Regions from separate parts of the Homo sapiens genome. Here region 1 is linked to region 2. The links come from fine-mapping of genetic effects on gene expression. A gene starts in region 2. The other region holds a variant in brackets. All regions are shown on one strand. Distances are from middle to middle.

What was found.
Region 1: its variant is fine-mapped to the expression of CCR2 in whole blood (INTERVAL, PIP 0.93).

What each region holds. Positions count from the first base shown.
Region 1 is chr3:46,246,093-46,261,404 of GRCh38, reverse strand. All of the region lies in intron 1 of CCR3 (C-C motif chemokine receptor 3), which reads right to left. Among named protein-coding and RNA genes, the nearest start is that of CCR3, 11 kb to the right of the region's middle. The variant T/A (reference allele first, on the strand shown) is at 10,735.
Region 2 is chr3:46,343,293-46,357,342 of GRCh38, reverse strand. CCR2 (C-C motif chemokine receptor 2) reads right to left here and starts at 3,232. Exons shown (of 2, transcript NM_001123396.4): 1 at 3,166-3,232. RefSeq lists an enhancer at 6,966-7,115 and a silencer at 12,608-12,814.

The DNA of each region.
Region 1 (15,312 bases), 97 kb after region 2:
TTAATGTTCCTGAATCTGATTTTGTACCTTATATTCTATTGATATCTTATTTCTGTGCTAGAGACACTTTTTATTGTAGATTTATTAGATGATTTATATAGATGATCTTATTATGCAACTCCCTTTCATTATACATTTCCAAATGTCTTACCTATTAGAGCCATTTGTTTTATTAAACTTTAGGATCATCTACTCAATTACTTATAAAAACATAAGTTTGGGTGGAATTGTGTTACATTTGTAAATAAATTTAGGAAGAATTGATAACTTTACAATATCAAGGTTTTATACCTGGGAATGTGATTTTGATCTGTTTTGAAGGTTATTTAAAGGTTATTTCAACATGAAGAAAGAGGATAATAAAGAACAAAAGTTAAATGAACATAGAAAGTAGGAGGGAGAGAAAGAATGAGAGAGAGAATCTTATGTGGTTAAACTGGATAAAATTGAATGAATTTATTACAAGGATTTTAAAATGGGCTTTCAATATCAAAGTACACTGATGCAAAACTAGAATTTGGTCTTCTTTCTGTTAAAAACCACAAAGTTTTCTTGGATTATTAGTCTACTCTTGATAAGAGTAATGAAAGTGTTTTCTCTGCCTTTTAAGTGATCTGCCTAAAAGAGCAGATTTTATTTCTCATCAAAATAATTTCCTCTGCCTCATGTTGTGTTTATCAAGATCTTTGATTACTTAAGAAAATAGAGTTATTTGTGTTACAGGAACTAAGATTTTTCATTTTTGTTTTCTTAACTATTGCCCAAGACCATTGGAACTCACCTCTTACATCTGCATAACCTGGATGCAAGACATGGAGTCAAAGGAGATCATTCTGGAGCTTTAAGGTTTGACTGCCCTGCTGGATTTTGAATTTGCATGGGGCCTGTAGCCCCTTTGTTTTGGCCAATTTCTCCCATTTAGAATGGCTGTATTTACCCAATGCCTGTACCCTCATTGTATCTAGGAAGTAAGTAACTTGCTTTTGATTTTACAAGTTCATAGGCAGAAGGGACTTGCCTTGTCTCAGATGAGATGTTGGACTGTGGACTTTTGAGTTAATGATGAAATGAGTTAAGACTTTGGGTGACTGTTGGGAAGGTATGATTGGTTTTGAAATGTGAGGACATGAGATTTGGGAGGGGCCGGGGTAGAATGACATGGTTTGGCTGTGTCCCCACCCAAATCTCATCTCGAATTGTAACACCCACAATCCCCATGTGTCGTGGGAGACACACGGTGGGAGGTGATTGAATTATGGGGGTGGGTTTTTCCTGCACTGTTCTCCTGATAGTGAATGAGTCTCACGGGATCTGATGGTTTTTAAAAGGGGAGTTTCCCTGCACAAGCTCTTCTTCTCTTGTCTGCCACCATATGAGATGTGCCTTTCACCTTCCCTCATGATTGTGAGGCCTCCCCAGCCATATGAAACTGGAAGTCCAATAAAACTCTTTCTTTTGTAAATTGCCCAGTCACAGGTATGTCTTCATCAGCAGCATGAAAATGGACTAATACAACTATGTAACTTTCTGTATTTGCCTTTGAAATCTTTTACTTGTCACTTTGGCTAAATGGATACCTAAGTATTGTTTCACAGTGAACTATGATCCTATTTAATCAAGTGCTTTAAATCTTTAGACATTTTTGACAACCTTCCTAAATCAATTCTACATACAGTCTTTTTTTACCTTAAGCTAACTTTGGAATTTTGCAGAGAGCCTCTGGAAAAACCTCAAAGGAATTTATTCTCTCCTTATATTATAAAAAGAGAGATGTTAGACTAATTAAGTTTATTTAACATATTACATTGCATGGGAAGAACTGCCAAATAAGAAATAATGTTAAATCTTCTTTATGTTATATTTGTATAGATATATCTTATTAATATGTGTTTCAGAAATTATATGAATTTCCTAAATATCAGATATGTCCTGGTATAATTTTACCAGCCATGTGTTGTATATCAGCCATATGTTGTATATATTTTATCAGCCAAAATGTTGTATATCACAGAAATAACCAAATTTCTTCTTCAACTGCATTATAGTAAATTCTCAGGGGCATTTTAAACCATTGTTCATCCACAGCAGTTATTGTTTTACTCTGGTGCTTTCCTGAAAGCTTTTGCAAATACCTTATGGTACAAAATGACATGAAATTCATAGAAAGACTCTGACACATACAGGTTTCTGACAGTTTTGAACTAGGGTTGTTTCTAGCCTTACAGTCCTGCAAGCTGAAGTTGAATTACCTAAAATAAACTTCAGAGAAATCACCACAACAGCTTGTATATGAACATCTTTTGTGCATGTTGCTGCACAGCCACTCAGAAAGTTCCCTGGACCTCCACTGACATTACCAGAGACATTCAAACTGCAAGCCAAGAAAATCTATTAGAGTGAAACAGCCATATTTTTTAAAATGCTGTTTCTATGTCATTGAATCAGGAATTGTAGCCCTAAATCTTAGAGATCTAAGAGATCAGATCCTACTATTCTACCAGATCAGGGAAGCACAATTGATTGGCTAAATCTTGGCTCTTAAGTAGGTTGGTTTGGTTGGTTTTGGGGTATTTTTCAGACTCTTGGTATTATCCTCCTATTAGTCATATTGATAATATCCCTTATGCAATGTAGTCTCACAAGGATCTTAAATGCTTGTCAGCAGCCACTAACTCAACAGTTGATCTCCGTGAGGATTGAAAACCAAAACTATATGAATAAGAGTCATCAAAATAACTTACTGAGATTCTAGTTTGTGACCTATAAATGTCTACAGAAAGGAAAGCAACATGTAGTAACCAAGGGTAATAGCCAGTCACATTCTCAGTTCAAGCGAGAGGATGACCAAAAGTGGGGAATTGTTAAAGAAAAATAAAAATGAAGGCCACAGTTTAGATATGTCCCAAGGCCCAGTGCTGATCATATTCTTGAAAAACACAATCCCAAATGCTATAATGTTGAAATCCCAAAAGATCAAAATCACAATCCTAAAAGACTAAAATTCCTAATGTTGAAATCCTGAAAGCTGAATTCTGGGGAAGGATTAGTGCATTTCTGGTTGTACACACCGTAGTTGCATAATGTTAGTTGCATCGTGTTAAGAAGAACTATTACTTGCTATTATCTTTATTTGGAAATTAAGTATGGTTTAAGGAGATGTGTATGCATGTCAACTTGACAAAGGGTGGATCTGTGGACTTAATTTTAGATGTCAACATGACTGAGTAAAGGAATAACTAGAAACTTGTTGAAGCATTGTATTGAGTGTGTCTGTGAAAGTGTTTCCAGAGATTACTGTGTGAGTCTGAGTGGATTAGGTGGGAAAGATCTGCTTTCAGGGTTGACAGGCACCATCCAATCAGCTGGGGGCCTGAAGAGAACAATTACAGAACGCAAATTGGTCTGTCTTTGAGAGCTGGAACAGACTTTTCTTCTGTTGCTTTAGACATCAGAAATCCAGGCTCACCAGCCTTTGAACTATACAACTACCCACCTCCCCCAACTCAGTGGCTTTCAGCCTAGGACTGAGAGTTACAACATTGGCTTCTCTGTTTCTGAGGCCTTCAGAGTTACACTGAGCCACACTACCTGTATTCCAGGGTCTCCAGCTTGTAGATGGTCTGTTGTGGGACTTCTTAGCCGCCTTAATTGTGAGCCAATTATCCTAATAAATCCCATCTCATATATCTACATACATATCCTATTGGTTCTGTCTCTGGAGAACCCAGACTAATATAGATTTGGTATTGAGGAAGCTGAGTATCATCCTTCTTACTGGAATGATATGCCATTATGGTTTTAAATACTAATACATGTTAAGGACTCTCAAATTGATGTCTTAAGCCCTGACCCAAATTCCTACTCAAAATTTCATCTTAAGTGTCTAATGAGCATCACAATATTCCATTACTCTTCCTTTACTCTCAATGGAAGAGACTGGTGAACTTTTTTCCCAGAAAAAAAAAAAAAAAAAAAAAGCCTGGGACAAGCTAAGTGTATGAGGTTACTTTAATGGTGAAAGATAACAATGTTAAAGTTGATTATTATTGGTGCTACAAAAGCACCAATCCTTTAATTGCAACAGCCAAGCAATAAACGGACTTTTAAATGGACAGCATATACTTAGGCAATGTGTAGACAACAACGACTCTCCAAATACAAGTGCAGCAAGTGTTTTGAAGAGCTTAGAAGTGAAAACACACGGAAAAAATACAAGAAATTTCCCTTGCCAAGTTACTCAATTGTGTATCACTTCTGTTCCTTCACCCCTAGTGCCAATTCACTATGCTATGTATTTAATCTTTGCATCATTTTCAGTAGTGGAGTTATAAACTGTGTAAAGACATTTAGAGAGTTTTATTATGTTTTATGCAATTTTTTTTTGCAAATTTGACTCCTGAAGGTACATTACTACTACAACTTTGTGTGTAAGCATTGTGTGTGTGTGTGTGTGCACAAATGTGAAGACCTCCTTGATAAATAAACAGATGTCCTTTTTGTGCCTCTGTGTTTGTGAAAGATACAATTTCTCGAGGTCTTGGCTCTTTGGGCAACTGGCAAATATGGTGGTGACCCATCATGATTCTCGATTGATCTCATCCAAAGAATTAGGATGTCCATCACAGTATTTCAGATGACTACAGTTTATAAAGCTGGGTGCACACAATTATTAACTATAGTGATATGCATTTATACATTGTGATTTTTTACGCAATTTATTTATGAATAAAATTTTGACACTATTTATTTATGAATAAAATTCATCTGCTCATAACTGTTATACCCTTGTGACTGTTGTTAGTATACCTGAGTGTTTATGCTTGCAAAAATATATATATTATTCCCTATTGTGAAGTGTTCTGTTGTGTTTTTATAAGTTTTTCAAAATAAATCCACCTATAGGAATATAAATAAATGTCTTTTAAATTATTGTTTTCAGAGTTATATTTTCAGGATTTTAATATTTTGGGATTGTGGTTTTGGATTTAAAATTTTAGTCTTTCTGGATTTCAACATTTGGGATTATGGCATTCAGGATTGTGTTTTTCAGGATTACAGCCCAAACTCCTCAAGGCCAACCACCCATAGCCACATAGCCAAGACTGAAGTCATCCTGATTTCCCTGAAAAGCCAGATGTAATAATAAATGAAACACAAAATATAAAGTTTATGTCATTGTCAGCATGATTCAGTGAAATTAAACCAATCTGCTATAGACAAATCAGCTTTAAATGTTCTTGTTGCAACACCATGTTAATGTATAACAGCAAATCACAAAAAAAGTTCAAAATACTGAAAGATCTCTGCAAGGAAAACTACAAAACACTGCTGAAAGAAATCATAGATGACACAAAAAATGGAAACACATCCCATGCTCATGGATGGGTAGAATCAATATTGTGAAAATGACCATACTGCAAAAAACAACCTACAAATTCATGTAATTTCCATCTCAATACCACCATTATTCTTCACAGAACTTGAAAAAAAATCCCAAAATTCACATGGAACCAAAAAAGAGCCCACATTGCCAAAGCAACACAGCAAAAAGAACAAACCTGGAGGCATCACGTTACCCAGCTTCAAACTACACTATTAATATAAGGCCATAGTCACCCAAACAGAATGGTACTGGAATAAGAACAGGCATATAGACCAATGGAACAGAATAGAGAACCCAGAAATAAACCCAAATACTTAAGGCAAACTGATTTTCAACAAAGCAAACAAAAACATAAAGTGGGGAAAGGACACCCTATTCAACAAATGGTGCTGGGATAATTGGCTAGCCATGTGTAGAAGAATGAAACTGGATCCTCATCTCTCACCATAGACAAAAATCAACCCAAGATGGATCAAAGACTTAAATCTAAGACCCAAAACCATAAAAATTTTAGAAGATAACCTCAAAAGAACTCTTCTAGACATTGGCTTAGGCAAAGAGGTCATGACCAAGAACCCAAAAGCAAATACAACAAAAACAAAGATAAATAGATGGGACTTAATTAAACTAAAAAGCTTCTGCACAGCAAAAGAAATAATCAGCAGAGTAAACAGACCACCAACAGATTGGGAGAAAATCGTTGCAATCTACACATCTGATAAAGGTCTAATATCCAGAATCTACAAGGAACTCAAACAAATCATCAAGAAAAAAACAAATAATCCCATCAAAAAGTAGGCTAAGGACATGAATAGACAATTCTCAAAAGAAGATATACAAATAGCCAACGAACATATGAAAAAATGCTCAACACCACTAATTATCAGGGAAATGCAAATCAAAACCACAATGTGATACTGCCTACTCTTGCAAGAATGGCTATAATAATAAAAAAAAAAATAGATGTTGGCGTGGATGTGGTGAAGAGAACACTTTATGCTGTTGATGGGTATGTAAACTAGTACAACCCCTATGGAAAACAATGTGGTGATTCCTTGAAGAATTAAAAGTCGATCTATCATTTGATCCATCAATCCTACTCCTGGGTATCTACCCAGAGGAAAATAAGTCACTATATGAGAAAGATACTTGCACACACATTTATAGCAACACCATGGTATACTACTCAGCCATGAAAATGAATGAAATAATGGCATTTGCAGCAACCTAGATGGAATTAGAGATCATTATTCTAAGTTAAGTAACTCAGGAATGGAAAACCAAACATTGTACATTGTCACTCATAAGTGAGAGCTAAGATGTGAGGATGCAAAGGCATAAGAAAGATAAAATGGACTTTGGGGACTCAGGGGAAAGGATGGGAGGGGAGTGAGGGATAAAAGACTACACATTGAGTACAGTGTACACACTGCTCAGGTGATGGGTGCACCAAAATCTCAGAAATCACCACTAAAGAAATTATTCATATAACAAACACCACCTGTTCCCCTAAAACCTATTGATTTTTTTTTAAAAAAGAACTTTGAACCCAGGGGGGAAAAATACTTCCCCTTTATGCTTTATAAACTATGCTGTAAGTGCTCTAAGTGGGAATCCCTACACTTTCAGATCTATGTCTCCTCACTCCCAAACTGTTCTTTTGTGTGCACAATAAACTTCTGCAACTTTAAATTTTGATCTGATTTTATTTTTGACAAATGTAAAGTTTCTTTTATTCTCCCCTTTCTCAATTTCCTCTCCTCCTCAGAGGGGAGTTTGTTGTCGAGCCCTCTTGATATTTGTTTATGTACTTATACACATAATTGTAAGTGGCTTTTTGGTACATAAATCAGGACCTCACATGGCACCCATTTCATTGCTGGATAATTCTATTCAGGGTGTTCTTGAGTGGTGGCTGAATTTATATACATAATTATAAGTGGCTTTTTGGTACATAAATCAGAGTAGGAAATATCAAGTTTTCTGTGACTTTTTAAACTTTATGTCTTGGAAATCTTTCTATGTCAATACTTGTAGAACTGTCTCATTCTTTGGTACATAAATCAGAGTAAGAAACATCAAGTTTTCTGAGCCTTTTTAAACCTTACATCTTGGAAATCTTTCTATATCAATACTTGTAGAACGGCCTCATTCTTTCTAATAGCGAGATGGTATTCCACTGTGTGGAATTTAAACAGTTTTCTATTAACAGAATTTAGATTACCCACACTGGGCATCAACACAAAATTTACCAGTATAACAAACCTGCACATTTACCCCTGAACCTAAAATAAAAGTAGAACAAAAATACTCCAAAAGAATCCGGTAATTCTAGTTTCCCTTAAAGGTTAACATGTGATGGGGTTAATAAAGAAACTTCCTGCATGTAAACTTAGTTAAATTTAATCTTAATTTAATCTAAATTAATAAAAGTGTTATATGCAGATAGTGGGAAGGATCATTTCACAGCATCCGAAAGTGGTCCAAATATGTCCAGGGCTCATTTAATGCAAACATTGACCAATTGAAATGCAGTCAAGAGGAAGCTTTACCCAGTAAAGATGAGTTGAAGAAGCCAAGCGTATCCATCCTGGAGAAAATCCACTTTGGGGAGGGGAGAGAGTATGATACTGGCTGGGCAGATGAGAATCAGAATTATGTGTGACTCCCTGCAAAGCCTCCCAGAACCAGCAAGAGGTAGTTCAAAGATGCAAATTCAACCACCACTCAAGAACACCTTGAGTAGAATTATCCAGCAATGAAATGGGTGCCATGTGAGGTCTTGAGTGAGCTGTGACTGGAGGAATTCACTCAGAGGCTGAGTGACTTCCTATCAGGGACGGGGTAGAAGGGATTCCCCCAGAGGGAGGAAGATTGGCTAGAGCAGCATTTCTCAGTCCTGGCTGCATGTGGGAGTCACTGGGGAGCTCTTGAAAATCCCCAGCTTATAACCCTGAACAATTAAATCAGAGTCTCTGGAGATGGGGTCTGGCTCTCAGTGGTTCTTAATGCTCTTCTGGTGATTCCCTTGTGCAGCCAAGGTTGACAACTCCTGGACTATGTGACATGAAGTCCCTCCTAAATTTGAACTTTTTTTTTTTAAATCCCTGAGTCATGTAACCCTCCAACCTATTTTAAATGTAGTGGAAAGAAAAGGGGAAACTTAGGGGTAGAATAAAGAATATCCTTAGTTGCAAGTTCTTTAGAAGCTATCACCATGAATGGCAAACACAAGAGCCAATTTAATGGTAGGCTATATTGCTGTATCATCCAGAACAAATGAAATCTACCACCTGACTCTCCATCCACCTCTCCACCAGCTATCCCTTCTTGTTTCCATCCAATTACCCATCTAGATATTCAACTTGCTTCCCATCTATGCAATTAAGCTGATCCCCTCCCACTTCCTTCCCTTCCTTCATTTCTTTTCTCAAAAAACCTGGAGTATCCAGAAAAGTTAGTTATCTGTGCAGTGGTCCAATAGAATTTTTCTGTATTAGTGGAAATGTTCTGTATCTGTGCTGTCTGATAAGAGAGACACTTGGCTGGGTGCTGTGGCTCATGCCTACAATCCCAGCATCTTGAGAGGCCAAGGTGGGTGGATCATTTGAGGTCAGGAGTTCAAGACCAGCTTGGTCAACATGGTGAAACCTTGTCTCTACTTTAAAAAAAAAAAAATTAGCTGGGCAGTAGTGGTGCACCCCTGTAATTCCAGCTACTCGGGAGGCTGAGGCAGGAGAATCTCTTGAGCCTGGGATGCGGAGTTTGCTGTGAGCTGAGATCGTGCCACTCCACTCCAGTCTGGGAGACAGAGTAAGACCCTGTCTCAAAAAAAAAAAAAAAAAAAAAAAAGACAGAAACTAGCCTCATGGCTATTGAGCACTTGAAATGTGGCTACTGCAATTGAGAAACTGAACTTTTCATTTTATTTAATTTAAATAACCACATGTAGAAAGTGTCAGGCCTCTGAGCCCAAGCCAAGCCATTGCATCCCCTGTGACTTGCACATATATGCCCAGATGTCCTGAAGTAACTGAAGAATCACAAAAGAAGTGAATATGCCCTGCCCCACCTTAACTGATGACACTCCACCACAAAAGAAGTGTAAATGGCTGGTCCTTGCCTTAAGTGATGACATTACCTTGTGAAAGTCCTTTTCCTAGCTCATCCTGGCTAGGTGATTTTAAATCACCCCCACTGAGCACCTTGTGACCCCCACTCCTGCCTGCCAGAGAACAAACCCCCTTTGACTGCAATTTTCCTTTACCTACCCAAATCCTATAAAACAGCCCCACCCTTATCTCCCTTTGCTGACTCTCTTTTCGGACTCAGCCCGCCTGCACTCAGGTGAAATAAACAGCCATGTTGCTCACACAAAGCCTGTTTGGTGGTCTCTTCACAAGGATGCACATGAAATTTGGTGCCGTGACTCGGATTGTGGGACCTCCCTTGGGAGATCAATCCCCTGTCCTCCTGTTCTTTGCTCCGTGAGAAAGATCCACCTACGACCTCAGGTCCTCAGACCGACCAGCCCAAGAAACATCTCACCAACTTCAAATCCAGTAAGCGGCCTCTTTTTACTCTCTTCTCCAACCTCCCTCACTATCCCTCAACCTCTTTCTCCTTTCAATCTTGGCGCCACACTTCAATCTCTCCCTTCTCTTAATTTCAATTCCTTTCATTTTCTGGTAGAGACAAAGGAGACACCTTTTATCCATGGACCCAAAACTCCGGCGCCGGTCACAGACTGGGAAGGCAGCCTTCCCTTGGTGTTTAATCATTGCAGGGACGCCTCTCTGATTATTCACCCACGTTTCAAGGGTGTCAGACCACGCAGGGACGCCTGCCTTGGTCCTTCACCCTTAGCAGCAAGTCCCACTTTTCTGGGAAAGGGGCAAGTACCTCAACCCCTTCTCTCCATGTCTCTACCCCTTCTCTGCTTTTCTGGGGGAGGGGCAAGTACCCCTCAACCCCTTCTCCTTCACTCTTAGTGGCAAGTCCCACTTTTCTAGGGGGCAAGAACCCCCAATCCCTTATTTCTGCACCCCAACCTCTTATCTCTGCACCCCAATCCCTTATTTCCTCACCCTGACCTCTTATCTCTGTGCCCCAATCCCTTATTTCCGCACCCAGACCTCTTATCTCTGTGCCCCAATCCCTTATTTCCATGCCCCAACCCCCCTTCCCGCTTTTCTGGAGGGTAAGAACCCCTGAACCCCTTCCCTCCATGTCTCTACTCTCTCTTTTCTCTGGGTTTGCCTCCTTCACTATAGGCAAAATTCCACCCTCCATTCCTCCTTCTTCTCCTTTAGCCTGTGTCCTCAAGAACTTAAAACCTCAACTTACACCTG[T/A]CCTAAAACCTAAACGCCTTATTTTCTTCTGCAACACTGCTTGGCTCCAATACAAACTTGACAATGGCTCTAAATGGCCAGAAAATGGCACTTTCGATTTCTCCATCCTACAAGATCTAAATAATTCTTGTCTTAAAATAGGCAAATGGTCTGAGGTGCCTGATGTCCAGGCATTCTTTTACACATCAGTCCCTTCCTAGTCTCTGTGCCCAGTGCAACTTGTCCCAAATCTTCCTTGTTTCCCTCCCGCCTGTCCCCTCAGTCCCAACCCCAAGCATCGCTGAGTCTTTCTAATCTTCCTTTTCTACAGACCCATCTGACCTCTCCCCTCCTTGCCAGGCCAAGCTAGGTCCCAATTCTTCCTCAGCCTCCACTCCTCCACCCTGTAATCTTTTTATCGCCTCACCTCCTCACACCTGGTCCGGCTTACAGTTTCGTTCCATCACTAGCCCTTCCCCACCTGCCCAGCAATTTACTCTTAAAAAGGTGCCTGGAGCCAAAGGCATAGTCAAGGTTAATGCTCCTTTTTCTTTATCCCAAATCAGAAGCGTTTAGGCTCTTTTTCATCAAATATAAAAACCCAGCCCAGTTCATGGCTCATTCGGCAGCAACCCTGAGACGCTTTACAGCCCTAGACCCTAAAAGGTCAAAAGGCCATCTTATTCTCAATATACATTTTATTACCCAATCTGCTCCCGACATTAAATAAAACTCCAAAAATTAGAATCTGGCCCTCACACCCCACAACAGGACTTAATTAACCTCACCTTCAAGGTGTACAATGATAAAAAAAAAAAGTTGCAATTCCCTGCCTCCACTGTGAGACAAACCCCAGCCACATCCCCAGCACACAAGAACTTCCAAACACCTGAACCGCAGTGGCCAGGCGTTCCTCCAGAACCTCCTCCCCGAGGAGCTTGCTACAAGTGCCAGAAATCTGACCACCAGGCCAAGGAATGCCTGCAGCCCAGGATTCCCCCATCTGTGTGGGACCCCACTGGAAATCAGACTGTTCAACTCACCTGGCAGCCACTCCCAGAGCCCCTGGAACTCTGGCCCAAGGCTCTCTGACTGACTCCTTCTTGGCTTAGCGGCTGAAGACTGACACAGCCTGATCGCCTCGGAAGCCCCATAGACCATCACAGATGCCGAGCTTTAGGTAACTCTCACAGTGGAGGGTAAGTCCATCCCCTTCTTAATCAATACAGAGGCTACCCACTCCACATTACCTTCTTTTCAAGAGCCTGTTTCCCTTGCCTCCATAACTGTTGTGGGTATTGATGCCCAGGCTTCTAAACCTCTTAAAACTCCCCAACTCTGGTGCCAACTTAGACAATACTCTTTTATGCACTCTTTTTTAGTTATCCCCACCTGCCCAGTTCCCTTATTAGGCCGAGATATTTTAACCAAATTATCTGCTTCCCTGACTATTCCTGGACTATAGCCGCATCTCATTGCTGCCCTTCTTCCCAATCCAAAGCCTCCTTTGCGTCCTCTTCTTGTATTCCCCCACCTTAACCCACAAGTATAAGATACCTCTACTCCCTCCTTGGCGACCAATCATGCTCCCCTTACCATCTCGTTAAAACCTAATCACCCTTACCCTGCTCAATGCCAAGATCCCATCCCACAGCACGCTTTAAAAGGATTAAAGCCTGTTATCACTCGCCTGCTAAGGCATGGCCTTTTAAAGCCTATAAACTCTCCTTACCATTCCCCCATTTTACCTGTCCTAAAACCAGACAAGCCTTACAAGTTAGTTCAGAATCTGCACCTTATCAACCAAATTGTTTTGCCTATCCACCCCGTGGGGCCAAACCCATATAACCTCCTATCCTCAATACCTCCCTCTACTACCCATTATTCTGTTCTGGATCTCAAACATGCTTTCTTTACTATTCCTTTGCACCCTTCATCCCAGCCTCTCTTTGCTTTCACTTAGACTGACCCTGACACCCATTAGGCTCAGCAAATTACCTGGGCTGTACTGCCACAAGGTTTCACAGACAGCCCCCATTACTTCAGTCAAGCCCAAATTTCATCGTCATCTGTTACCTATCTCGGCATAATTCTCATAAAAACACACGTGCTCTCCCTGCTGATCCTGTCCGATTAATCTCCCAAACCTCAATCCCTTACAAAACAACAACTCCTTTCCTTCCTAGGCATGGTTAGTGCAGTCAGAATTCTTACACAAGAGCCAGGACTGCACCCTGTAGCCTTTCTGTCCAAACAACTTGATCTTACTGTTTTAGCCTAGCCCTCATGTCTGCATGCAGCAGCTGCCACTGCTTTAATACTTTTAGAGGCCCTAAAAATCACAAACTATGCTCAACTCACTCTCTACATTTCTCATAACTTCCAAAATCTATTTTCTTCCTCATACCTGATGCATATACTTTCTGCTCCTTGGCTCCTTCAGCTGTACTCACTCTTTGTTAAGTCTCCCACAATTACCATCATTCCTGGCCCGGACTTCAGTCCAGCCTCCCACATTATTCCAGAAACCACACCTGACCCTCATGACTGTATCTCTCTGATCCACCTGACATTCACCCCATTTCCCCATATCTCCTTCTTTCCTGTTCCTCACCCTGATCATGCTTGATTTATTGATGGCAGTTCCACCAGGCCTAATCACCACACACCAGCAAAGGCAGGCTATGCTATAGTACAAGCCACTAGCCTGCCTCTTAGAACCTCTCATTTCCTTTCCATTGTAGAAATCTATCCTCAAGGAAATCACTTCTCAGTGTTCCATCTGCTATTCTATGTGCTATTCTACTACTCCTCAAGGATTATTCAGGCCCCCTCCCTTCCCTACACATCAAGCTCGAGGATTTGCCCCTGCCCAGGACTGGCAAATTAGCTTTACTCAACATGCCCTGAGTCACAAAAACTAAAATACCTCTTAGTCTAAGTAGACACTTTCACTAGATAGGTAGAGGCCTTTCCTACAGGGTCTGAGAAGGGCACCGCAGTCATTTCTTCCCTTCTGTCAGACATAATTCCTCAGTTTAGCCTTCCCACCTCTATACAGTCTGATAACAGACCAGCCTTTATTAGTCAAATCAGCCAAGCAGTTTTTCAGGCTCTTAGTATTCAGTGAAACCTTTATATCCCTTATAGTCCTCTGTCTTCAAGAAAAGTAGAACGGACTAAAGGTCTTTTAAAAACACACCTCACCAAGCTCAGCCACCAACTTAAAAAGAACTGGACAATACTTTCACCACTTTCCCTTCTCAGAAGTCAGACCTGTCCTCGGAATGCTATAAGGTACAGCCCATTTAAGTTCCTGTATAGATGCTCCTTTTCATTAGGCCCCCAGTCTCATTCCAGACACCGGACCACCTTAGACTGTGCCCCAAAAAAACTTGTCATCCCTACTATTTTCTATCTAGTCATACTCCTGTTCTCTGTTCTCAACTACTCATACATGCCCTGCTCTTGTTTACACTGCCAGTTTACACTGTTTTTTCAAGCCATCACAGCTGATATCTCCTCGTGCTATCCCCAAACCGCCGCTCTTAACTCTTGAAGTAAATAAATAATCTTTGCTGGCAGGACTATGCTGAATCTCCTTAGGCACTCTCTAATCAGATGTCCTAGGTCCTCCCGATTCTTAGACCTTTTATACCTGTTTTTCTCCTTCTCTTATTCCATTTAGTTTTTCAATTCATACAAAACCATATCCAGGCCATCACCAATCATTCTATACGACAAATGTTTCTTCTAACATCCCCACAATATCACCCCTTACCACAAGACCTCCCTTCAGCTTAATCTCTCCCACTCTAGGTTCCCACGCCGCCCCTAATCCCGCTTGAAGCAGCCCTGGGAAACATCGCCCATTCTCTCTCCATACCACCCTCCAAAAATTTTCGCCACCCCAACACTTCAACACTATTTTGTTTTATTTTTCTTATTAATATAAGAAGGCAGGAATGTCAGGCCTCTGAGCCCAAGCCAAGCTATCCCATCCCCTGTGACTTGCACATATACGCCCAGATGGCCTGAAGTAACTGAAGAATCACAAAAGAAGTGAATATGCCCTGCCCCACCTTAACTGATGACATTCCACCACAAAAGCAGTGAAAATGGCCGGTCCTTGCCTTAAGTGATGACATTACCTTGTGAAAGTCCTTTTCCTAGCTCATCCTGGCTCAAAAATCACCCCCACTGAGCACCTTGCGACCCCCACTCCTGCCCGCCAGAGAACAAACCCCCTTTGACTGTAATTTTCCTCTACCTACCCAAATCCTATAAAACGGCCCCACCCTTATCTCCCTTCGCTGACTCTCTTTTCGGACTCAGCCCGCCTGCACCCAGGTGAAATAAACAGCCATGTTGCTCACACAAAGCCTGTTTGGTGGTCTCTTCACACGGACACGCATAAAAGCAAGTAGCCACCATAGTGGACAGTACAGGCCTAGTGTCCAGCATGATGCCTGACAAATGAAAGATGCTTAATAAACTCTTCTTAAGTGTATGAAAGGATGGAGTAGAATAATTTTTACTCTGCTTTGCACTGTCCAGACTACACATCTGAAATATTATGTTCTGTTCCAGGCACCAAAT
Region 2 (14,050 bases):
GTGCCAGTTCCTGATTTGCCTTTCATTCCTAGTGGCAGACATCAATGATTTACCCAACAGCCATTTTCCGACACCCTTTATCTTCCCCAGCAAACCAGATTCTCATTTTCAGGCTAAAAGCGCTGGGCGTTTGTTTTCTCTGGCTCCTTTGCAGGTGGTGCATAGGTCTGTGACTCATTGCTGGACCATAATATGAAAAGGGAGTCTGCTGGGGGCTTCTGAGAAAGCTCTTCTTCCCTGATAAGACAGACACAAGAGAACCCTCCACCTGCCCCTCCTGCTCTGGCAGCATGCCTAGTGAGGGCATGGTGCCATGAATGGAAGACCTAGAGAACCATGAGAAGCCAGGCAGAATCCTATTATCACTGAGTCCTAAACCCACCCTTGAACTATTCACCTTCTGCCTTCTTTTTTTTTTTTTTTTGGAGACGGAGTCTCGCTGTGTCTCCAGGCTATAGTGCAGTGGCCATGATCTCAGCTCACTGCAACCTCCACCTCCTGGGTTCAAGTGATTCTCCTGCCTCAGCCTCCTGAGTAGATGGGACTATAGGCGTGCACCACCATGCCCCGCTAATTTTTGTATTTTTAGTAGAGATGGGGATTCACCATGTTGGCCAGGATGGTCTCGGTCTCTTGACCTCCTGATGCACCCGCCTTGGCCTCTCAAATTGCTGGGAGAAAAACAAGCCCCTGTTTTAAAGCCATTATGAACTGCATTTTCTGTTCTCTGAAGTCAAAAACGTTCTAACTGATGATTCTCTCAGCTTTCTGCCTCCATCATCCTGCCAAAACTTCTCTTGTTAAGATTGCAGTGACAACCCAATTTTTCAAATGCCCTGGTTTTATTCCAATTCCACCCTCTTCAAGTATTTGATCCTTCTGCTAACTTCCTCCATTTACAATTCTTTTTGGCTTCCAGATGGGAGGGGCTGTGCTACCGCTTTTTATTCATGTTCTTTGCTGGCATCTCCTCCCCGTGCCCACACCTTAAGATTCCCCAGGCACCACACTTAGCTCTCACCTCTTTAATTTTTTGCCTCTTTATCCTTGCTACAAAGTTCTTCCTGAATTGTATTGTCTAAACTCATGGTTCCTACTCCCTTCTATGCTACTGTTTTCTAAAGCTCTGTCTTCAAGCTCCAGCTTTCCCCTAAGCCTTAGAGTTGAATTTCCCATTGCCTGATGCATATCTCCCCATGCATGTATTCACTGCATCAACACTTATTGAACACCTACTATGAACCATACTCAGTTTTAGGCACTGAAGTGAGCAAAGTGGGTATCATGCAGGGACCTCAAATTCAACCCACCCCAAATGGGGCACTGCTGAAAACTCCTTCCGATTGTGGATTCCTCCATTGCCTAAGAAGCAAAATTGGGCATTGCCCTGGGTTGCTTCTCCTTCTGAAAATTAGGAGCCAGTTTTTGGAGCCAAACAAACCTGGATTTGAATCCTTATAGGCAGTGTAATCTGGGGCCAATTACTCCTTCAAGTGCCGATTTCTTTATGCATAAAATATTAACTATGCTGAGTTGCTGTGAAGATCAATGGAGTAAGGACTTAGGACAGCATCTGACACAGAGAAATGCCCTGTATTATTATCATGTCATTTGAGTTCCACCTCATAGATGCCTCTCAGATTCATCCCCTCTGCACTGCTTTCAACTGTCACTTTCTTGCTTCACACACTCCTCACTCCTGGCTTTGTTGTAGTCTTTCCTTTGCTCATGGCTCATCTCAAGCCATGTTCCCTCTCAACCTATCTTCTCTTAAGTTGAAATTGAATAGTCACTCTTAGCTTAAAACCTCCAGTAGCCCTATGACTTATATGTGGTGGGCTTCAAAGATAATGTCCAGACTGCCCAGCACAACATCTTTTCTGAGTTTGCCTCTTTTCAGCCTCACCTCCAGTCCCTTCTCCAATCCCAAATCCTGTGCTTCAGTCACAGCCATCTTCTCTTCATTTTCCCTAAACTCACCATTTCCTTCATGCTTCAGTGGTTTTGCAGGTCCTTGCCCCTCTGCCCAAAATGATTGGTGAGCTTCTATTCACCCTTCAATACCTCCTGCTCAAATCCCCCTTCTCTGTGAAGCCTAATCTGTATCCTCTGTCATATTACTCTTATCACATAACACTGCATGCATCTAGATAAGCACTTATTATGTTATCTGCTACACACAGCATGTTCCTCAAGATCAAGGACTGGATTATGCTTCTATTTTCAGCTCTTATGATAGTACCTGGCTAAAGGAGGCACCAATAAATGTTCACTGAATGAGTACATAAAACTCTTTATAATAAGAACTATAAGCCCTAACATCATCAGGACTTGATTCTCAAGAATTTTTTTTCTGGCAGTGACTGTGAATTTCTTTTCCACCCACCTGTATACTTTATCCTTCCATTTCTCTTGCAATTGACACTTTTCACAAGTCTTGTATTTCATATCACTGAGCCAGATTCTTGAAATCTGGAGAAGCTAAATAAGACCTCTGATCAAAGTTGGAAAAAAATGCATCTGCCTAAAGAATCACAACTGTGGTCATTAATTGAGTGCTCCTGAAGCTCAGATGCTATGTTAAATGCTGTGCACACATTACTTAATTTCATTTTTACAACTGGCTAGCATGTAGCTTCTACTACAGTGAACAATGAGCAAGATGCCTGAAATGTGCTGTCCTAGGTGTCATTTCAAGTGTCAGAACATGTCACCCAGAACTGATAGAAATCTATCTTTCAGAAAATAAATTCCTTACTTCTGCCTCTGTGGATCTCCTGAGTTGAGGCAAGGGACACATTTTGGTTCAGAGCTTGGATGGTCCTATATTTAGACTAACAGTTCCAGCTCTTTAACGTCCTTGGGTGCTCAGAGGGGCAGAGTGAGCCCCTGGGTGTGTGGACTGGTGACTGAGCAGAGTGGCTGTCCTGGCCTCGCTTGCTGCCCACTCTCCCCCATCACCTGCTGCACGCTGCTCTTCCTCAGGGTTTCTCTAACATCTCCTGGTGCACATGCCATCCCCACCCCTGCCTCTCATCTTGATCATTCCCCCCAAGTGTGCAGGCTTTGCAGTTCCCCAGGGTGTACCCAGACCCGGCATTTCCAGCTTTGAGGTGCGTTGAGCCTATGAATCAGAAAGTAATGGAAAAAATGCCTACAACTCACCAGCTTGTGGCTTGTCTCAGGCAGTCCTGGTATGTCAGGCTTCTCAGCAACTGAACCAAACAGATCTAGAGGTAGAAACTTGGCATGCAGAAGTAGGAAATAAAGTTTCCTGCAGAAAGTGAAGGCGGAGATACAGGGCAACTAATGGTAAAGATTTGAAAAAAAAAATCAGAAAAATATAGTTCTTCTTTTCCAGTCAGGAACATTGTACATTGGGTTGAGGTCTCCAGAATAGGATTAATTTTGAAATCTTGCTTATGCAACCTTGAGTGTGAGTCAGGCAAACCCTGTACATCTGCTCCTGTTTCTAACGACTCTGAGCTTCTTTATCTTGTGGGTCTTTATACCTGGAACATTTCCACTCTCTGCTCTCCTACTAGTGATAATTTGCATGATATGAGCACAACAGAATGTTTCATGTTCCAGAGAATAAAGGGTATTGGTGATAGTGGAGGAAGTATAATGAGGTTTTACTGCGATCATGTGTGCTGGTTTCAGTGGTATCATGGATTCAGAATCTGGTTAGAAATTTCATTTAGATAAGACTTTAAAATTTTTTTTTATTTAATTCACATAATAATTGTATATATTTATGGGACACAATGTGATGTTTTGCTACATGTATACATTGTGCAATGATCAAATCAGGGTAATTACATATCCATCCTCTGAAACATTTATCATTTCTTTTGAAATAATAATGATATTGAAAACCCTCTCTTCTAGCTATTTATATATACAGAATTCATTATTAACTACCGTCACCCTACTTGGAGCAGAGCACCAGCACTTGTTTCTCCTATCTCATGGTAACTTTGTACCCGTTGATCAACTGCTGCCCATTCTCACCTCCTCTCTTTCCTCCCCAGTCTCTGGTAACCACTGCTCTACTGTCTTTTTCTAAGATAGCAACTTTTTTTTTTTTTTTAAATTGGGTTTCATTCTGTCACCCAGACCGGAGTGCACTGGCACAGTCTCAGCTCACTGCTACCTCCACCTTCTGAGTTCAAGCCATCCTCCCACCTCAGCCTCCTGAGTAGCTAGGATTACAGGTGTGTGCCATCATGCCCGGCTAAGCAACTTATTTAAAAAAAAATTCCACATAAGAGTGAGATCACGTGGTATTTGTCTATCTGTGTGTGGCTTATTTCACTTAACATCCTCTAGGTTCATCCACATTATCACAAATTACAGGATTTCAAACTTTTTAATGAAAAGGAAATGCTAAATTATCTCTTGTGTCAGGAACGTCCTTAGCAAGAAGAACCTCAGTTATTTTAAATGCCCCTCCTTGGAAAGACGTTTTGTTAAAAGATAATGTAAATTTTGCAATGGGGACATCAGACTAGGAGCATTCCTAAGATTGTGCAGAGAACATGGTGTCATCTAAGTTGGCCCCTGGCACTTTCTGGAATCCAGCAGACACCGGAGGCAGGATCTCATGCTGTGGACTTGGCAAGTTTCTAAGTTTCCATTTCCCAAATATGAAATATGAATAACAAGACTGGGGGTCTATGAGGGTAAATGGACCTAAAGCAGCTAGAGCAGGGTCTGGCAGGCACTCCACAGGTAACAAACAGAACAGAACAGTCTGAGCCCTGCAGAGTGCCAGAGGTTGAAGGATGCATCCACTGCTAGAGCCAACAACAATCAAATGCTCAGGGCAGTCCAGGTGTCCTTTCCAGATTTCAAGAAGTTGGCTTTTTTGCTGTTGTTGTTGTTGTTGTTGTTGTTGTGTTATGTTGTGTTTTTGCTTTCTTTTGCGACAAGATCTTGCTCTGTTGCCTAGGCTGGAGTGCGGTGGCATGATCATGCTTCACTGCAGTCTCAACCTCAAGCAATCCTCTCATCTCAGCCTCCCAAGTAGCTGAGACTACAGGTGCATGCCACCATGCCTGACTATTTTTTGTAGAGATGGGGTTTTGTCATGTTGCCCGGGCTGGTCTCGAACTCCTGGGCTCAGGCAATCTGCCTGCCTCAGCCTCCTGAAGGGCTGGGATTACAGGTGTGAGCTCCTACACCCAGCCCAGATTTCAGTCAGTTGTAACCATGTGTCCTGTGTAAGACCTGGTATATGTGCTAAGTAAGACCTGAGACTTGAAGGGTCTCAGGTTTTTTCTTGGAAGACAGCTCATTGCCTGTTCAGGAACATAGCAAGTTCCCCAGTTGTCTCTCAATGTGTCTCTGGGCCGGAATTGGAGCATATCTCTGAGATTTCAATAATAAGACAGGTCATCCCTGACCTGGTAACACTGAGCTTGCTGCCACTTCTGGAATCTCCTGACCCTGGCATCTTGCCACCTGTTCCTATGATTCAACCCAGGATGGGGAAGAGCAAGAGCCAGAAATTTTGCTCTGGCTGATTAGGACCGCTCTCCAATTTTGTCTTCACATTGTGATCTTTGTCTCCAGCCCTGTAATTTCATAAACAAGGAGAGGCACAGAGGTAGATAGTTGCAGAGCCAGGATTCAAACCTTTGGCTTATACTGACACAGAGGGCAGGATAACAGAGGGCACCCTCCGCTGAGATTTTGAAGAGACAGTATAGAATGAAAATATTTTTGGAGGGGTGAGCAGGCTTAAAAGAAGCAACAGGGATGGTGAGGTGGTCTGTCATCCCTATGCTTTGTGGGAGACCAGAATTTGACACCCTAAAATGTACCTCTTTTGCATAAGGATTGTTGAGCTGAAGGCAATTAAGAAGCAGATGAAGGAAAGCTCTTTTCCCTCCCTTTATTTGTCTAAAAGCAGGATATAGACTTACAAAGACAAAACGGATCTGCACCCCCCTCCACACCTTCTGCCAGGGTGAACAAAGGTTCACCACTGAAGACAAATTTAAATCCTTGTGGACCTGGAGATGGCACCAGAGGAATCTTCATTAACAAGTATTACTAACCAGCCTTTACCTCCATTTATTCCTTTTGCCTTCCTACAAGTCACTGTCCCTAGAGGCTCAAAGTTCATTTTCTTTGTCTTGTCATATCTCTAAAATGTTACTGAACTTTGTTGAAGATGCTATATGAGCTGGAATTCAAAGTCACCTTTTTAAGAATTATTCATTCCCTGGATAGCTCCTATGTACGTATAAAATATGTACGTTAATAAACTTTTCTCGTGTTAATCTGTCTTTTGTTACAGGGGTCCATTCCAAGAACTTATGAGCATTGAGGAAAAAATTATTTTTTTCTTCCTTAACAGCTAGAAGGATCAAAAGAATAAACAATACCACTTGAGTGCTACAGACAGCTGGAATTGAGAGCTGCAGGTTGATGGCTCAGCCACTGCTAGAAGTTCAGCAAAGCAGTAGGACAGCAGGGGCAGAAAGTATCCTAACCTCCTTCTCCCACTCTGACCTCCTACCAGTGCTTCCCAGTGACTGAACCAGATGGGAAGAGGGAATAATGGACAGTCTAGGCAATGTAGCCCCTAAAATCAGCATCCTGGGACTCAGAGTGGATCTGGGGGAGTGTGGCAAATAACCACACAACCGTCAAGTCAAACAAATTTTTTTCTTGCAACTTTCTTCTTACCTCGTCCATATATTAATAGATAGTTAGAAAATTGGGAATCTTGATCAGTACATCTTAGAATTCTTTATGCACACGGAGAGAGTTAAAAAGGATGTTTTTTCATGAGTTTGAGAATTCTGTATCTACCCATTGGCACTGGGTTCATGGTTTCTAAGGTTCCCAGTCTCAATGATGAGTATGGCCCTTCGAGCAGGCTTGAAGGAAAGTATGTCACAAGCCACTGAGCTCTGATGTGCCTGCTGACCAAGCAGGATTACATAGAAGGCAGGGCTGTGGTCACCTCAAGGTGACATGGGGCAAGGAAGAGGAGAAGCTCAATTTTTCTGCAAGCCAATGATATGAGAATAGTTTATGCTCCCCAAATAACAAAAGAAGACCCAGAATGCTGGCCCTAAGATGTTTAAGATCTTGTTTATTTTTACACTCAAGGTCAGCAGTTGAGTTGGGGATTAGGCCATTGAAACTGAAAGTTAGAGTTGTACTCAGAACCTCTCTGCCACTCCATGGATGGCAAGAACATGTGAGAGAAAGCATAGCTAGAGAGAATTGGTGGTGGGGCAAGAAGACAGAAAAGGTTTTTCAACAGCCTGAAGTACTTTAACGATGCCCTTAGCAATTTCCTAAGTAATGGGCAATAGATTTGTTCAGTTAGTGCCTTTAGAAAATAGAGAAATTCTTGCCTCTTGTCAACACAGATGCTTTTGGTTCATTGCGGTTTTTATGGTTTGCATGCTTCCTGTGACCTACTAAAATAGATTAGTGAGTTCTAGGATTTTACATCTTCAATTCTGGTTAAACATGATCTGGACCAATATGATGCCCACAGAAAAAGCAGTAATTATGTTCCTACCTATCCTGGTCAAGTCTTCATAATAAAAATGAAGCAAACTATTACCACTGTTTTTGTCACAAATGAAAAAGTAACACAACAGGGCATAGAGTCACAGCAAGAAAGCCCAGCAACTGCAAATGATTCTTGGAAAGGAAGTGTCAACTAGCAGAGGGCAGATAAGAATTTCTCCTCCATCTTCTAAGTTCAACTTTGTCTCCAGATGAACCAGGAGTAGACAAGAATGTATGATTAGAAATAGAAATTAAAAGAACAAAATGGTAATTTTGACTTAGAGTGTAAATGCAGCAGATTAGATGTCATACCTTTAGGCCAAACAAACTGTAGGAGAAAAAAGGGGAAATCAGAATCTTTAATACATGTACTTGCTAAAAAGCTGTCTCAAGTGACGGAAAGAAATTCATTTGAACCCTATAGTAGGAATTCTTTTGTAGCCTAGATGTTTTAAATGTCTCTGTGATTAAGATCTCAGTATAGATGCCTCAGAGGTAGCCTGCTCTAGGGAGGAATCTGTGGCTGGGGATAGGCCAAGACAGGTATTTAGAAGGCATTTATAGATGTCCCCAAGACTTGGCAACAGCAGGTTGGGAGCCGAGTCTGGGAGTGAGAAGCTAAGATTCATACTCCCCACCAGCATATTCCCTGACACTAAGCTTGGTGAGTAGAAGGAGCAATAGAGGGAGTACTTGCAGGAAGAAGTTTAATGAATATCATTGTGGCTTCTGAGGTGTCCCAGGGAGGGGCACCATGCTATAGAAAACATCAGGAAACCCAGACTGTGCTCATTGTTGGTACAGATGGCATGAGAGGAAACCCACAGAGCTGATGTGGCAGAGGTTCTGATTGGTGAACATGATTAGACTTACCCTGGGTGGGCATGAGTGATGGAGACAATGAGATGGACCCTGACCTACCATGACTGATTGGAGTTGAGCCCAACTGATGGTGACTTTTGCGGGGACCATAAACCTCTGATGGTGGGAAAGAATAAGTGTGTGGAGGACAACTCCTTTGTAATGCAACTTAGGTGTATATATTTCTATTTAAAAAGTAATGCATGCTGAAAGCAAAAGTTGACTCTTTAAAAGATCAACAAAGTTGACAAACCTTTAGCTATGCTAAGACAGAAGAAGAAGACAAAAAGAATACAGAGAAGACACAAATAACTAAGATCAGGTAAGGTGGGGACATTATCAACTTTACAAAAATTAAAAGATTATAAGATAATACTATGAAAAAATGCACACCAATAAATTAAATAACCTAGATTAAATGAACAAATTTCTAAAATACATAAATTGCTAAAAAGTTACTCAAGAAGAAATAGAAAATCTGAAAAGATCTGTAAAAATTAAAGAGATCAAATTGGTAATCAGAAACCTCCCAACACAGAAAAATGTTAAGAACCAGACGGCTTCACTGGTAAGTTCTACCAAACATTTAAAGAAAAATTAATATCACTCCTTCTCAAACGTTTAAAAAATGAAAGAGGAGAAAACACTCCCTCATTCATTCTAAGAAGACAGCATTACCATTATAGCAAAGCCAGACAAATAAACCACAAAAAACCTGTGGACTGATATTGCTTATGAATATAGATGCAAAAACTCTAAACAAAATACTAGCAAACTAAATCCAATGGCATATTAAAAGGGTTATACACCATGACCAAGTGAAATTTATATAAAGAATGCAAATGTAGTACAACATAAAAAATCAACCAATGTAACATCAACACTAATAGAATGAAGGAAAAAAAATCTCACATGATAATCTCAACTGACACAGAAAAAGCATTTGACAAATTAAATACCCTTTATATCAAAAACACTCCAAGAAGTAGGAGTAGGAAGGAACTTCCTCAACATGATAAAAGATATTTGTAAAAAACCCACAGCTAACATTATACTCAATGGTTAAAGACTGAAAAATTTCTCTCTAACATCAGGAAAAAGACAAGAATGCCCATTTCACCATGGTTATTCAACATCATACTGGAAGTTCTAGCCAGGGAAATTAGGCAAGAAAAGGAAATAAAAGGCATCCAAATGAGAAAGAAAGAAGCAAAACTATCTTTATTCACAGATGACATGATATGTAGAAAATCCCAAATAATCCTCAAAAAAACTATCAAAGTTAACAAGCAAATTCAGCAAAATTGCAAGGTATAAGATTGTTGGGAACAGGCCCCCCAAAATCTGGCCATAAACTGGCCCCAAAACTGGCCATAAAAACCGCTGCAGCACCGTGACATGTTCATGATGGCCATAATGCCCACGCTGGAAGGTTGTGGGCTTACCGGAATGAGGGCAAGGAACACCTGTCCCACACAGGGCAGAAAACCGCTTAAAGGCATTCTTAAACCACAAACAATAGCATGAGTGATCTATGACTTAAGGACATGCTCCTGCTGCAGATAACTAGCCCAACCCATCCCTTTATTTCAGCCCTTCCCTTCGTTTCCCATAAGGGATACTTTTAGTTAATCTAATATCTATAGAAACAATGCTAATGACTGGCTTGCTGTTAATAAATATGTGGGTAAATCTCTGTTTGAAGCTCTCAGCTCTGAAGGCTGTGAGACGCCTGATTTCCCACTTTACACCTCTATATTTCTGTGTTTGTGTCTTTAATTCCTCTAGTGCTTCTAGGTTAGGGTCTCCCCAACTGAGCTGGTCTCAGCATAAGATCAACACAAAGAATCAGTTGAGTTTCTATACACCTGCAATGAACATCCAACAGGAAATTGAGAAAATAATTTTATTTACAATAGCATAAAAAAATGCAATACCTAGGAATAAATTTCACCAAAATTTAAAGGTGAAAGACTTGTACCCCAAAACTACAAAACACTGCTGAAAGAAATTAAAGAAGACCTAAATAAAGAGAAAGAAAGCTCATATTCATGTATTAGAATACTTAAAATTGTTGAGATGGCAATGTTACTGAAAGCTACCTACAGTGTCAATGCAATCTCTAACAAAATTTTAATTTTGTAGAATAGAAAAGTCAATCCTCATATCCCTATTAAATTGCAAGAGGCCCTGACAATCTTTAAAAAAGAAAAAGAAGAATATTGCAGTACTCACACTTTCTAGTTTCAAAACTTACTACAAATCTACAGTAATCAAGATAGTGTGATACTGATACAAGGATAGACATGTAGATCAATGGAATAGAATTTAGATTCCAGAAATAAACTCATACATTTATTATCAATTGACTTTCAACAAAGGTGTCAATACTATTATTAAATGAGGAGATGATAGACTCTTCACAAATGGTGCTGGCACAGCTGAATATCCACATGCAAATGAGTAAAGTTGGACCTCTTCCTCACATCATATGCAAAAATTAACTAAAAATGAATCAGCGACCTAAGTAAATGAGTCAAAACTATAAAACTCTTAGAAGAAAATAGAGGGGTAAACCTTCATTACCTCTGATTTGGTTATAAATTCTTAGAGGTGACATCAAAAGCATGAGCAATAAAAGAAATAAATTGATAAATATGCTTCATCAAAATAAACAACTTTTGGGCATCAAAGGACATTATCAATAAAGTGAAAAGACAGCCAGTAAAATGAGAAAAAACATTTGCAAATCATATATCTGATAAGGGCCTAGTATGCAGAATATTTAAAGAATGCATGCATGTCAACAACAAAGACAATCTAGTTTTAAAATGGGCAAAACATACACGAAGAGGCATTTCTCCAAAGATGATATATAAATGACCAAAAAGTACATGAAAAGGTACTCAACATCAATGTTCATAAGGAAAATGCAAAGAAAACCACAATGATATATCACTTTACACTCATTAGAATGGCTATAACAAAAATAGAAAATAACAAGTGTTGTTGAGGATATGGAGAAATTGGAACTTGCTTACATTGCTAGTAGGAATATAAAATGGGGCATCAGATTTGGAAAACAGTTTAATGGTTCCTAAAAAAAAATGCTAAACATAGGATTAGCATATAACCCTGCAATTTCATCTTAGATATATACATAAAAGAATTGAAAATAGGTAACCAAATTCTTGTACACAAATATACATAGCAGCACTATTCACAATAGTTGAGAGATGGAAACAACCCAAATGTCCATAAACCAAAAAATGGATAACAAATTGTGGTCTGTATACAGTTATTCATAAAAAGAAATGAAGTACTGATACATGCTGCAATGTGGATTAGCCTCAAAAACATGCTTGGTGAAAGAAGCCAGACATAAAAGGTACATATTGTGCCTCCATTTTTATGGAATATCCAGAATAAATAAATCCCTAGAGACAGAAAGCAGGTTGGTGGTTGCTAGGAGCTAAGAGAGGAAATAATGGGGAGTAACTGCTTAATGGGTACAAGGTTTTATTTTGGAGTGATGAAAATGTTTTGGAAGTAGAGCTAGTGGTTGTACAATATTGTGAATATAATAAATGCCACTAAATTTTTCATTTCATGTTATGTGAATTCCACCTCAATAAAAATGCATTTACCATAGAAAAATCAAACATAGAAAGTAAAAATTAAGGGGTGCATAATCATTTATAATTTCATGACCCCAAAACAACATGTTAGTATTTTAGGTTACTTCTATCTGCCCCATCTTCCCCCAATTTATAGGTTTGTTTTTGCTGTTAGTATTGTTTATATGGCATTGTAGGCTTATTATATATATCCTTTTGTACCTTTTTGTTTTTCTACTAGCAACCCCAAATTTTTCCATGCTGTAAATTATTCATAAACATAATTTTAATGGCTGCTGCATACTGGTCAAATGGTTCATAGATTTGTCATTCAACAAATGAGTACTCAGGAGTCTATACCATTTTACATCCATTGTTTGTCCAGAAGACATGACAATGGGTATAAAAAGGTGAATAAAACATACCCAGCTGATATGGTTTGACTGTGTCCCCACCCAAATTTCATCTTGAATTGTAGTTCCCATAATTACCACATGTCATGGGAGGAATCTGGTGGGAGGTAATTGAATCATGGAGGCAGATTTTTCCCGTGCTGTTCTTTTGATAGTGAATAAGTATCACAAGATCTGATGGTTTTATAAAGGGCAGTTCCCCTGCACACGTTCTCTTGCCTACCACCATGTAAGACGTGCCTTTGCTCCTCCTTTGCCTCCCTCATGATTGTGAGGCCTCCAGCCATGTGGAATTGTGAGTCCATTAAACCTCTTTTCTCTTTATAAATTACCCAGTCTCAGGTATGTCTTTACTAGCAGCATGAAAACAGACTAATACGCCAGCCTTGGCCCCAAGAAACTTTTGTGTTCCAAGGTGTTAGTCCAAACTACACCATTTTGTAAGCCCCCTGCTATTTCGCAGACCCTGGTCAAAGTGAAACATTCCATGGGGGTTCAGGCTGTGAGAAACATCCTGTCTAACTACCTGATTCCAAGGCACAGGAACATCCTTATCATACCCTGCCAGGCAAAGGCCCACCTGAAGGAACATCCCTACCACATTCTGCTGGGAAAAAGTGCAAGAAGCATCACACTCTATGGAAGCAAGGACCAAACTGCCTCATCATGGGAACGTCTTATCAACATCTTCTTGGGCAGCAAGCCATACTGCTCAGACCCCACCCACCCAGGCCTATAAGTACCCCCAGACCTATAAGTACCCCAGCCTATAAGCAGTGGGGGGCTCTGGCATTAAGCTGGTCCCCACCTTTGCAGGTTTTTCTAATATACCTGTATTGCTGTAGAACCGCTCTCTCTCTCTCTCTGTCTCTCTTTCTCTCTCTATGTCTCTCTTTAACCCTTACCTTCTCTTTAAAAAACTTAACACAATGTAGGAGAGAGATGTTAAACAAACAAAACACATTAAATATAGAACTACAAATTTTTATAAGTATTTGGACAAAATGATAGGATCTTATTAAATCAAATTTGTACTGAAGAATCAGAGTAGACATCTTTGAAAAAATATTTTAACAGGTATCTAAAATACGAAGAACAAATATGAATTGACTAGACAAAGGGAGTTAATGATGATGGTGGTGGTGATGATGATGATGGTGACAGTGATGGTAATGTAGTGGATGGTGACATGACATGCCATGATAATGATGAATTTGGTAATGCAGACACTTATAAATACTATAGGCACTGTTAGATTGCTTTACATATATAGGTCACATTTAATGCTTATGAAAACTTTATGAGCTCAAAACTATTATATCATATTTTCTCTTGGGATTAAGAGATTAAGTTATTCTCCCTAAATCAACTCAGTGCTGGGATCCAAGCTCAAGCAGTCTTGCTCTACACCTTTGCTCTTAATTACTGCATAAAGAATTCCAGGTAAAGTTAACAGTGCATGCGAAGGCCAGGAAATAGAAAAAACTAATCTTAAAAATTATGTGTGTATTTTATTTTTTTAATGGACAACTTAAATCTACAGAAATATTCAAAGGATAATGATAGAATATCTGTGTACCTGCTGCCCAACTTTAACAAATCTTATTTTGCCATATT